Homo sapiens: one gene and its partners. The protein of the gene in region 2 interacts with the protein of the main gene of each other region in a biochemical or structural test. Each region holds a gene or a part of one and is shown on either strand. Other genes may lie near its edges.

Evidence for each region.
Region 1: the proteins of DSCAML1 (region 2) and PTPRT interact in a biophysical measurement, tested with the Homo sapiens proteins (one large-scale study listed by IntAct).
Region 3: the proteins of DSCAML1 (region 2) and PTPRM interact in a biophysical measurement, tested with the Homo sapiens proteins (one large-scale study listed by IntAct).

The regions. Positions count from the first base shown.
Region 1 is NC_000020.11:43,187,051-43,191,173, forward strand, and holds the start of PTPRT (receptor-type tyrosine-protein phosphatase T isoform 2 precursor), read right to left. Parts: upstream 2,857-4,123; 5' UTR 2,684-2,856; coding exon 2,596-2,683; intron 1-2,595. UniProt on the Homo sapiens protein: May be involved in both signal transduction and cellular adhesion in the CNS.
Region 2 is NC_000011.10:117,787,205-117,790,853, reverse strand, and holds part of DSCAML1 (cell adhesion molecule DSCAML1 isoform 1 precursor), read left to right. Parts: intron 1-3,649. UniProt on the Homo sapiens protein: Cell adhesion molecule that plays a role in neuronal self-avoidance. Promotes repulsion between specific neuronal processes of either the same cell or the same subtype of cells.
Region 3 is NC_000018.10:7,948,208-7,951,856, forward strand, and holds part of PTPRM (receptor-type tyrosine-protein phosphatase mu isoform 1 precursor), read left to right. Parts: intron 1-973; coding exon 974-1,148; intron 1,149-3,649. UniProt on the Homo sapiens protein: Receptor protein-tyrosine phosphatase that mediates homotypic cell-cell interactions and plays a role in adipogenic differentiation via modulation of p120 catenin/CTNND1 phosphorylation.

The DNA of each region.
Region 1 (4,123 bases), on a different chromosome or scaffold from region 2:
TCCTTCCAAAAACCGTCGTGGCTCAAGAAATATGTCTTAGAGTAAGGAAAAAGGAAATTGCCTTTTGATGACAAGCTTCCGCCCCGACTTTTGGACACTGAGACCAACATGTTACAGCAAAACATATTAGCCCAACTATGTTATGGATGTAACCTTATAAATTGAAATTGCTTTCAAGATTGGGAATTTTCAGATCAAAAGAACATGGAAAACACACTACTTAGTTTTAAAATGTATTTGTCCAAACTTGCCAAAAGTTTTAAATAAAATACTTTAAAGGAAATCAAGTTATTGTCATATTTATACTAGATTTGAAATACTAACAATTTCTGAATTTAGGAATAAAATAAGATAAGTCCATTTTTAAGTCAACATTTACAGTATTCTTGTTTTGACAAATACAGATGTTCATGAGGAACCCTGGGGAAAAAAAATCTAATTTAGATGGTCTAGTTGCCGTTAAACTGGAAAGGAGAGGACAGATATATACAGAAAATCCCCATTTCTACAAATGTGTGAGGCTTAGAATGCACCAGTTCTCCAATACAAGCTAATCCCATTCGTTTAAGGAGCCCCTGGCACAAAGGCACCCACTTGCTAAATATATGCTATATCGCAGGTTTGCAGAAACCACCCTGCCCAGGTAGACCCAAAAGAACCACAGATTTCTTCCCAAACCATATTCCAGGATTTCTTTTCTTTCTCCTGCATTCTAAAGAGCAAACAAAGAAAAGGTGCTCGCTCCTCACACTTCTCTAAATGTTTTAACAAAAGGCTGCTGAATAAACACATTACTCATTTAAAAATTGAAAAGAAGTTCTATTCCTGATATGAAAGCAACCAGATTTGCATTTTAATAGTTGTGGGCGAGCGCCACCTGGCGGGAGCATCCGGAACGGGCGGCGTTCAGCACTGGACAGCTTCCCGAGCCGGTACGGGTTTTACCGCTTGCTACCCAAGAACGATTCGAGACCCGTGATGGAATATTTTTGATCCTGTTTCTGCCGCGGGAACGTGAGTGGTATTAATGTGTGGTTGGCCGGTCATGCCTTAGAGGATATAAAATCTGAGTCACGAATCATGCCTGGATCCCCAGGACTGCCCCGGGCATCCTCCCTAGTACCCCTCCCTCCCCTAGCACACCTAACACACCCCCCAAAATGAGGAAAACAAGAATTGTGCACCATCTTTAGAATGGTGCTGTAGCTGTCCCTCTTCTCTCACTTGCTAATCCAACCTTTCAGCTTCACACACCTCAAAAGGAGTGTCTTCGTCACCCAACTTCCCAGCCAGGGAAACAGGCTGTCCCTTCACAGAAGTCGCCTATTCCGCTTCCATTTTAGTACCAAGCAAGGAAGGCTCTAAAGCATTTCCAACGGAATGTCCTTCCAGCGGCCCTTAACCTCAGACGCAGCTTGTGCAAAGACGCTGTACCTCCCCACAGGTTCGTTCTTTTGCTCTTTCTTTCTTCCTTTCCTTCTTTCGGTGAAATAATAAATGGGCACAGCTGTTGCTTAGCGATCCGAAACCAGCCTGTTCCTGCGTCCCACGGGCTGATCTCAGCCTGTCCCCGCAATCCCAGCCACCTCAGGCCGGCGTGGTTACACCAAAAGCAATCGGTGCTAAGAAACTTTAAGGTGATTTTGAACTTGGAAGTACACCTGCAGCACTCCCTTCTCTTCCCTCCGCCGCTACTCTTGGGGGGGGGGGGGCTCGGGGGTGGAAGCTGCCTGCGGTGGGGCTTGGTGATGTGTAAGACCCTGGACTGTGGTGCCCTCCAGCACCCGCCAACGTGCCTTTAGGAGCACGGCAGGCACCACCCCCCCGCCCCCGCTCCCCCTACTCTGGGGAACTACCTCTGCTCACCGCCTTCCCGTGGCCAAACCCAAATATGAGTTCCCCGAACTTTTCAGGAGCGGACGCGCTCACGGGTCAAATCCACTCCCCTCCAAGGGCCTTAACACGGGCGCCCAGCTACCTCGGAGAAAAGCCAGCGGGTAGGGCGGAGGTATTGCTCTCGGTCATCAACGCAAACATCCCCTCGGGTGCCTACAGCGGCCTGCTTAGGGGAGCAGCGTGTTCAGAGCAAATGGAGAGCTTCCTGTATCTCCGAGGAAAAAAGAAAAGCCGCCGCCCCGGCAGCCTCGGCCTGCTGGGGACCTGTCCTCCCCACTAAAAGCGCGCGCTGCCCGAGGAGCTGCCCGGGAGAGAACGCTCCACCCCGGGCGTCGGTGCCGCTCCTCGTCTCGCCGCCCCAAACACTCAAGTGGCAGATTCCGACAAGTGGGAGGCAGCAAGTGGAAATATTCGCAACAACCGCGGAAAGTTACTCCAGCCCGGGGGGCCGGCAGGAAACTGAAGCGGGGAACTTCGCCAAACGCGGGCTGCCGAGGGACGCGAGGGGCCGGGCTCGCTGGCCGGGGCGCGCGGGGACACTGCTTCCCGCGCCTGCAAGCTGAGACCCGGGTTCCGGCCATGGGGACCCGCGCCCCCGCGAGCCCACACAACTTTCTCCTCCGAGGGCCCCGCGGCTGGGGGCCCGCGCGCATCCAGGAGGGAGCGGGGAGCCCAGGGGAGCCGGGCGGGCGCACTCACCTGCGGCGCTCTGAGCCCGGGCGCCGGGCAGTGGCGGCAGCTGCAGCCTCAGGAGCAGGCTGAGGGCGAGCGCGGCGAGGCTCGCCATCCGGGCGGCGGCGGGCAGCTCAGCCCCTTCCCGCGGGGGCCGGGGCCGGGACTGGGGCGGGCGCGGGGTGGCCCCGCATCGCCGGCGCGGCCGCTGGCTGTGCGCGCGGCTGGCTCCGCTCGGGCTCCCGGAGCCGGCGCTCCTGCGTTCCAAGCCGAGGCGCGGCGCGAACTGAGGCGGGAGGCTGGGCGGGGGCGGGACGCGGGGGGCGGGGGGCGGTGTCCCCCGAGTCCTAACGCCGCCGCCGTTGCCGCCGCCGCCGCCGCCGCCGCCCGCCCGGGCGCTCCGCCTCGGCCGTGCACACACCCTCACGCGCACGCCCGCGCCTGGCACACGCCCGCGGCTGGCACACGCGGGCTCCCCCGCGCACCCTCTCCGGGGCCGACCAGCTCGGGCCGCTGGCACAGTCACGCGCGTCCACACATCACCCCCGCACCCACACGCCGGGCAGGGTCCTCGCCTCTTCGCCCCGCGCCGCGCCGCGCAGCCAAGCATCGTCTGCCCTGTGGGGGCGCAGGTACGGGGGCGGTGCGGGGAGGAGGAAGCTGCAGCAGCCGTTTGAACTCGGGGTGGGGAACAGGTGAATGGGGGTTCGGTGGCGAGAAGAGGGAGGGAGGGAGCAGCCCTCGCAACTCAAGATAAGGGGCCAGGTGAATTGCGAAAGCGGGTGGGGGCGTCTGCCCAAAGCTGGGGCAGGCGGCTGCTGGCCAGGGTCTCGGGCACACCCTGAGATGAGAATTTCATCTAAGAGCGCGCGCGCGCACACACACACAACCCACTCACACTCTTCTGGGCGCATCGCTGACCGCGCCACAATCGTCGTCCCCCTCAATTAGCCGCCCACCCCACCTTCTTCTTCACCCACATCTCTCTCTTGTCCCCACCACCACGCGGAAGGGGGCGCAGAAGGGGCATGAGGCATCCCCCCACCCCCTACAATTTTTCCCTGGCAGCCTTCCCTTTCCTTTTCTAGGGAGACAGAACCTTGTAGCTTTTTCCCTTTTCTTCTCGGTCTTAACAAAGACCTGGTTGGGGCTGAAAGCCTAAAACCATAGATCAGGGTTGGAGCTGTCCCTGGCAGCCCACGGCCCACAGCCTGGCTCTCTGCTGTCCTGGGAGGCAGCTGGTACCTGAGTCTTGGCTGGGGGTCTGAGATGTAAAAGCCAGGGGCAGGGATACCCAGAAATGCTTAAGGGATTCACACTTTGTGAACACTTTGCTACCTGGCCAAAGCCCTCCTTCTTCTGTGTCAGCACAGCCCCCCACCCCCATCCTTGTTGGGGTACCAGGGACTGGACTGGGGAGACTGTAAGTGAATTGTGAAAATCAAGCATGGCAGGGTTTCCAAAAGTGGGGAGCCCCAGGCTCTGGACCCAAGTTGGCATGGCAGAGAACACAGGGCGTCACTCTGTCAGTCCCCAGTTCCCAGTCCCCACTAGG
Region 2 (3,649 bases):
AAAGAACATTATCCATGGACCTAAAAAACAAAGCTCAGCCTGTCTTACCTGGGCAAGTTGCCTAATGGTTCATGTGCCTTTATTTCGTAATCTGTAAAATGGGCAAAATTACCCCCGTCCTGGCTATCCTACAGAGCAGTTGTTACTGTATATGTGCATAAATAAGAATAAGAGGCATAAAAATGTACATCATGTGACAGTGCTTTGTATACAGAATGAGGCAACATATGAACACACACATGTAAAAACCACAGCAAACCCGTTTTAGCCTTATAAATGCTCTGCTGAAATGTGAGGCATAATTACTGTCATTTCATCATACAGGAACGATGAAGGTCTCACAGCTGTTTGTGGCTGTCTCCCCCTCCGTGGGCCCCAACATATGGAGAATTTTCCTAGCTTTGCTTTTCAGCATCATGGGGAACAGCTGATGAGGCACAGCCAGGCTGGCAATAGTCTTCCTGGAGCAAACTTGGCAGATCCCTTGAGGCCCCAGTGGTAGTGGGAGTGGGAGGAAGCCTACCTCTTCTCCCTCCTCCCATTCCCCTCCAAGGTTCTTAGATGCAAGTGTAGTCCATAGTCCTCTGGACCAACTCCCCCAAAGGGACATTCTCCCTGCAGGGAATCCACAGTCTTTTGTGGGAAGAGCAGTAGGCACAGTCCCATCTTATGTGACCTCATTTAAGGTCACAGTATTCACTGGAATCTCTGAAAACTCTGCCGAGTCGAGACTGGTGGACACCCTGCTACTAGGGTGACCCTCCCGCAGTCGTGGGGTATGAGAGAGGATAGGACCCCTGCGTTGGGGGTGGGAGAGGGAGATTCAGGTGATCACCTTGGGTAAAAGTCTTGCAGGGTTGGAAGGCATCTTTAAGGCTGTGGAATCTGTCCCCTAATCAGAGGCTGACTCCCTCTGCAGCTTTCCCACCCAGTGTCTTTTTCTGTCTTCACTAGCACTTCCTGCAACAGGGACTCCTTCCTTGCAAGGCAGCCCATTCCTGGCCACACAGCTCTGACTATTACAGAGCTCATCCTTAGAATGAGTCAAACCCTGTTGTGGTCTTGGACCTTCTACTCACTGGTCCTGATGTCACCGCTTGGACCACATAGAGCAAGGCAAAGCCCTCTTCCACTTGACAGCCCTGCGACTGTGATAGGCAGATGTCCTGCCCATCTGAGGCCCCTGCTCTGGACACGCAGCATCCCTAGTTGCTCTGATACACCCTCGAATGACATCGTTTCGGTGCTTCATGGTGCTCCTGAGTTCCACAATGGCTAGTTTTCTGACAGCAGGGTGGCCAGAACTGAGAGAACACTGGAGACAGCACTGTAGCCCCAGCTGGGATGCTGGTGAGCTGTGTCCCTGGGGTAGATGACTCCACCTCTCTAGGCCTTGTGAATGGAGGAGATTGGAAAAAATAATCTCTTAAGTCCCTCAAGCATTAACAATCTAAATCTAGGATTCTCTGGGGACAACTGTGCTGTCTGAGCTGACTCCCTGGAAAGAAATTTTGGCCATAAGGGACCTTCCTTTGACAGGCCCTGTCTAGAAAGGGCTGGAAGATTAAAGAGTCTGTCCGACAGTCAGCTGTTGCTCATAACTTCTCCTGGAGCTGATGGCACAGGGCCTTGGAGGTTGAAGGATAGCTGCGTCTCCACTGGACCTCGCAGGTTTCTGGTTGCTGGTCACAGAAACCATGTTTGTGCTAAGAATCTTAAAAACAAACAGCAAAACCACCCATGTTTCTGATGGACACAGGGAGGACACTTGAGCTGTGCTTTGCATGGGGATTGGAAATGGGGAGCGTTTTTTGGTCATCTCAATGACTAGGGTGGGGAGCTGCTGGCGTTTAGTTGGGGGAGGGATGGAATGTCTAATGACAGGGAGATTCCCAGGTAATTCTGAATTATCATACCCCAATTGATCTCTTTTGTCAGAAAATCCCCCCACAGTGTGCTCACACCATGGGGATGGTCTGAATCTAGCCTGTCATGTGCCTGCTGAGCCACACATCCTGGCATAAAGATGTGAAATGCAGCTCTGCCACTGCGAACTGTGCAACACCAAGAAATTATTTGACCTAAGAGCCTGTCTTCTTATCTGTAAAATGGAGTCTTGAGTAGTAGCTACATCCAAGGGCTGTTGTAAGAATTACATGTGCAATAATGCAAGAAAAAGGCTTCCCACCATGCCTGGCACAAAACAAATGCTACAAAGAAATGATGGGGCTGGGCATGGTGGCTCATGCCTGTAATCCCAGCAGTTTGGGAGGCCGAGGCAGGCGGATCACTTGAGGTCAGGAGTTCGAGACCAGCTTGGCCAACATGGCGAAACCCCATCTCTACTAAAAATACAAAAATTAGCCAGGCGTGGTGGTGCACGCCTGTAATCCCAGCTACTCAGGAGACTGAGGCAGGAGAATCGCTCAAACCTGGGAGGTGGAGGTTGCAGTGAGCCAAGATGGTGCCACTGCACTCCAGCCTGGGTGACAGAGCCAGACTCCGTCTCAAAACAACAACAACAACAACAAAAACAAAAACAAAACAACAACAACAAAACAAACCAAAAAAACCAAAAGATGGCACTGTGATGGGGAAGGTAGTGGTGGAGCAGGTGTGCCAGATTGGGTGGACATCACAGGCAGAGAGCATGGGACTTGGCCCGCTGCTTCCTCTTGTCCAAGGACCATACCAGCTCAGGCTGCCTGGTACATGCTCTGATGCTGTCTGGGAAACTCAACCCTCTCCTTGCCAGTGTCTGGGCTCAGACAGTTTCCAAGATGCAACATAAAGGGTTTTTAGTGAAGCAGCAAGACACCGTCTGGCTGGTCCTCCTCTGGGTTTTGAATGGACTTGGTGGGTGAGCCGGTGGGAGGATCACCCTACTGGTTGATCCTCTCTAGAACCAATTTTTCCAACTCTGGGATGAGAACAATCAGAGTGAGGGCACATAACACATCTCCCATGAAAACCTTTGTGTGGAAATACAGTGAAGTAATCAACCTTGCAAATCAATCCAAGAAACCTCTCCAGCTCACATCTGCATGAAGAACTCTGCGTAAGGCCTGGGAATTAGCAAAAGCTGTGTGGCTACTGCAATGCTCTGTTGCTATTGATTCTACCACTGTTGTTTTCTTATCTTGATCTCCAAATTAAGTTAATTAATGTGGTGGTAGGGTCTTGTCAGCCAAGCAGATGACAATTGTCTGTCGTTGGGAAAGGAAGTATAGAAGTCCAGGATGGCAAATCTACTTTTCCAAAGGACTGTTACTCTCAGTATAGACAGAGGACACCAGTCTCAGAAATAGAATTTCTGGCCCTATGACAGACTTGGTGAATCTGTTATCTAAGGCTCTGCATTTTTAACAAGCTCTCCAGGTGATTCTTATGCATACTGATGTTTGAGAACCACGGTTTTAGGTTATTATTATTATCATCAGAGGTGAGCAGTAAATATTTGTTGCACAAGGATTCACTTTTCCCACAAATACTTACTGCTTGCCTGCTATAATGATAATGCTTGTAACAACAGCCACAAATACTTAGGTGGTGCCAGGCACTTACATAAAGCAGAAACTGTCCCAAGCTCTTCATATATATTAACTCGTCCAACCATAACAACCCTTGAGGTAGACATTGTCACCACCTT
Region 3 (3,649 bases), on a different chromosome or scaffold from region 2:
CATATTCGTATTTGTCTATGGGGGACTGTTGGTGTGAGAAACTTTATATATATGTGTGTGTATATATATTATATATAGAGAGAGAGAGAAAGAGAGAGAGAAGAGAGAGCACAAGAGCAAGAGCACATACAAGAGAGAGAACTAAAATCTCTAACCTGCTTTTGAGACTTTAAATCTCTAACCTGCTTTTGAAGCCACGAGGTTTGAGGCTTTAAACTATTGGAAGCATAGAATGGATTTCCAAGTGTGCATAACTAAAAGGGTTACTTAATATATGGGGATAATAAAAGACCATATATGGGGATAATAAAAGACCAAACTGCCCCAGCTGTGGAACTTTGTTTATGTGGTCCTGGGGATATGGGATGTAGAGAGGAACCTCTCTTGTTACGTATGAATGTCATTTAATAGTTACTAGGCACCTAATTCTGTTTGGTTTTGTATATCCAGGAAGAACGTCAAAAGGGTTGAACTATTCTTTTAGTCCTGTTCAATAGGGAGTACTCTAAAACCTAACTTATAGTTGAATGTTATTCTTAATACAGTGTTTATTACTTCATTTATAAAATGAGGTCAGTAATAGGATAGTGGGTGAGCTACTTTTATTTCCTAGTCAAGCATACAAATAAGAGAAAGTGCTATAAGACCAAATGTGGATAGTTTGAAAACAAGGTAACAAGTTTTCTGTATTTTTACTCCCCTGTTGCACTAATTAACATAATATTTTGAAGAGGCAAAAACAAAAAATGTCTTCACACTTAATTTTGCATCGCTCAGTCTTTAAGGTGTTGATCATGGCAGAATTTTAGTTTCCTGCTCAGCTATTCTCCTGGTACAACTGCCCATGGGTAATAAGCAACTGCACCAAGGTCTGCATGAAAACAGCATGGATAATATACCATTGGGTGTCTGACTGTTTTGCTCTGACAGCTTATATTGCTTCTTTTTGTCCTCCCCACCCCACTTGATACAGGGCATTGATGTGCGAGATGCTCCTCTGAAGGAAATCAAGGTGACCAGCTCCCGACGCTTCATTGCTTCATTTAATGTTGTGAATACCACCAAACGAGATGCTGGAAAGTACCGCTGCATGATTCGCACTGAAGGAGGTGTTGGAATATCAAACTATGCAGAGTTGGTAGTTAAAGGTATTTAATGTGTTTTTATACCAGAATATTCTTCTAAAGTAGATATGTTAGGTGTTGTTAGTTCATTATCCCTTTAAAGCTCAAACTTACCCTTGTCTGTTTCTGAGCAGTGGTTTGATGACAGGCTATTTTGATGGATTGCATTTTAAGTACAAATTTTGCACGTGAACAATATTTTTGAAAAATGTGTTTTATCTATGTTGATTTAGTTGCACAAAAAACAATGAATGTGCTCTTGGCAAAGTCTTCTGCCAACTCTATATACAGAGATTACAACTTATAAATTTTTTTTAAGGAATAAAATTTTTTACTGATGAAAAATCACTTAAAATGCAAATATTCATCAGCCAGCGTGTTTATGATAGCAGAGTGGTTAATAAAATGAAGCAGTGTCAGTATAAACATGCTCAGTCATATCACACAAGCCATATTGATAATTCTGTGTTAACATTCATAATGTTCCAGTTAGGTTCTATTACTATATTTTGCATGACTGAAAAATTGAGTCATTATATTTAAGAAGGTGGGGGATGAGGGAAAATAGAAAGGGGAAATAAGTTTCCTTTAGCCGGTTTAATGGGTTTTTTGTAGGCTGAGGAATTTATAGCATTAAGCCACCAAGACAATTTTTGGTCCCAGACAGGATAATTTGGACTTTGAGGTGTACCATGAGGCATTTTTAGACAACCTGTGGCAAGCCATTGCTGTTTTTCCTAGGAGAACAGAATGAGGACTGCTTTAAGAAAAGTTTTCCCTGCATTTGTTAAATATGGCACATAAAATTGATCTCTCTACATATATAATCCCAGCACTTTGAGAAGCTGAGGCCAGAAGTTCCAGACCAGCCTGGGCAACATATTGAGACTCCACCTCTACAAAAATTTGTAAAAATAAAAAAAGCTAGCCAGGTGTGGTGGCAGTGCCTATACTCCCAGCTAGTCAGGAGGCTGAGGTGGGAGGATTACCTGAGTCCAGGAGTTCTAGGCTGCAGTGAGCTATGATTGTGCCCCTGCATTCCAGCCAACCTGGACAGAGTGAGACCCTGTGTCTTAGACAAAAATTGTCTGTTTCTTATGTGGTATAAAAGCAATAGCTTTTATCTGCACATTTCTCAAGATAGGCAGCTTTAAAGATTGCTGGATTCAAATCCCAGAACTAGGTATGTGGCTATGGGCCAGTGGCTTGCCCTGTATGTGCTGCTGTTTCCTTGTGTGTAAGGTAGATATCAGATAATAATGTTATCTACCTTACAGGGCCATGAGGAAGATCAAATGCAAAGTGTATATTATATATAGGACACTTAGTATACATAGTGAGCAATGGGTGCTTGAAAGGCCCTTGGTGGGAAGGGAGAGGAGGACAGGGATAAACTTCTCTCTGGTCCAGTCTGTCAGTGGTCTTCACTGGGGAATGGATGTCTGAACTACCTTTCTGACTTTTTAAAAATGTAAATACCTGCCCACCTATTGTCTCCTCCCTGTCTGGCCACACCCATATTGAGTCAGAATATCCAGGGACACAGCCTCTGTTATAAAACCTCCAATGAGTCAGCCATATGCTCTGTTGTGAGATCACCACTGCCAGTGTTAGTTAGTCACACGTAGCTTATGGGGGACAGTGCACCCCAGTGAGGCCACCTCGAGAATCGTCTGCAGCAGTGACTGATGTTCGGCGTAAGGAAGTGCACATTAAGATATCTACTCGGATAATGTATTTGTCACAGCAGATTCTTAACATGTTTTTATTTGTGATGAGACTTGAACCAGCCTAATATTTAGGTTTAAAGTCTCTAACAAAACTAAGATTCTTCCCTGCTGTACACACCCTACCCTGTTGAAAGTGCTCTGGCAAGTGAGACATCATGATGTACAGAAAGGACACTAGTTTGCCTACAAACTGTTTTGTCATTTTAGAGTTCATCATTATCATCATCATTATTACTACCATTATTTAATTTTCATCTTGGTTCATTTGTTTTTGATTATTTTTCCTTTTCTTTCAGTTGCTATACTGCTTCACTGTGACCTGCCACTACCCATGTTATTGATTAGTGGGATGCAAATCTAGTAGTATCTCTAAAAATTCCCTTGTGGAAAAGTTAATTTGTTGGAAGTTATAAGTAAATTATAAATTTCTAGTCTACCTGAACAAACATAAATAGAAAGAATGAATAGATTCGTATTCATATTTGTGCACCACATTTTCCTGTCTTATGGCAGTGTAGTAGTATCTTGGCTCACTGTGATAAAAATTACCAGGGACTTATTTCCATTTCCGCACACTGCCACAGCTCATGACAATTTGCATGCAGTTAGGACTCAAATATGAAATTTAACTTTTTCTCCAATTATAATTTTATGGCCATATTTTGTATATAGATATATTTTTTAATGAGATAACATGCTAGATACTACTAGTTTTATAAGGTTATTACCTTGAGGCAATTACTTTAAAATATACACTAACATTTTTAGGCCACTTGTCTATAATTTAACACTTTT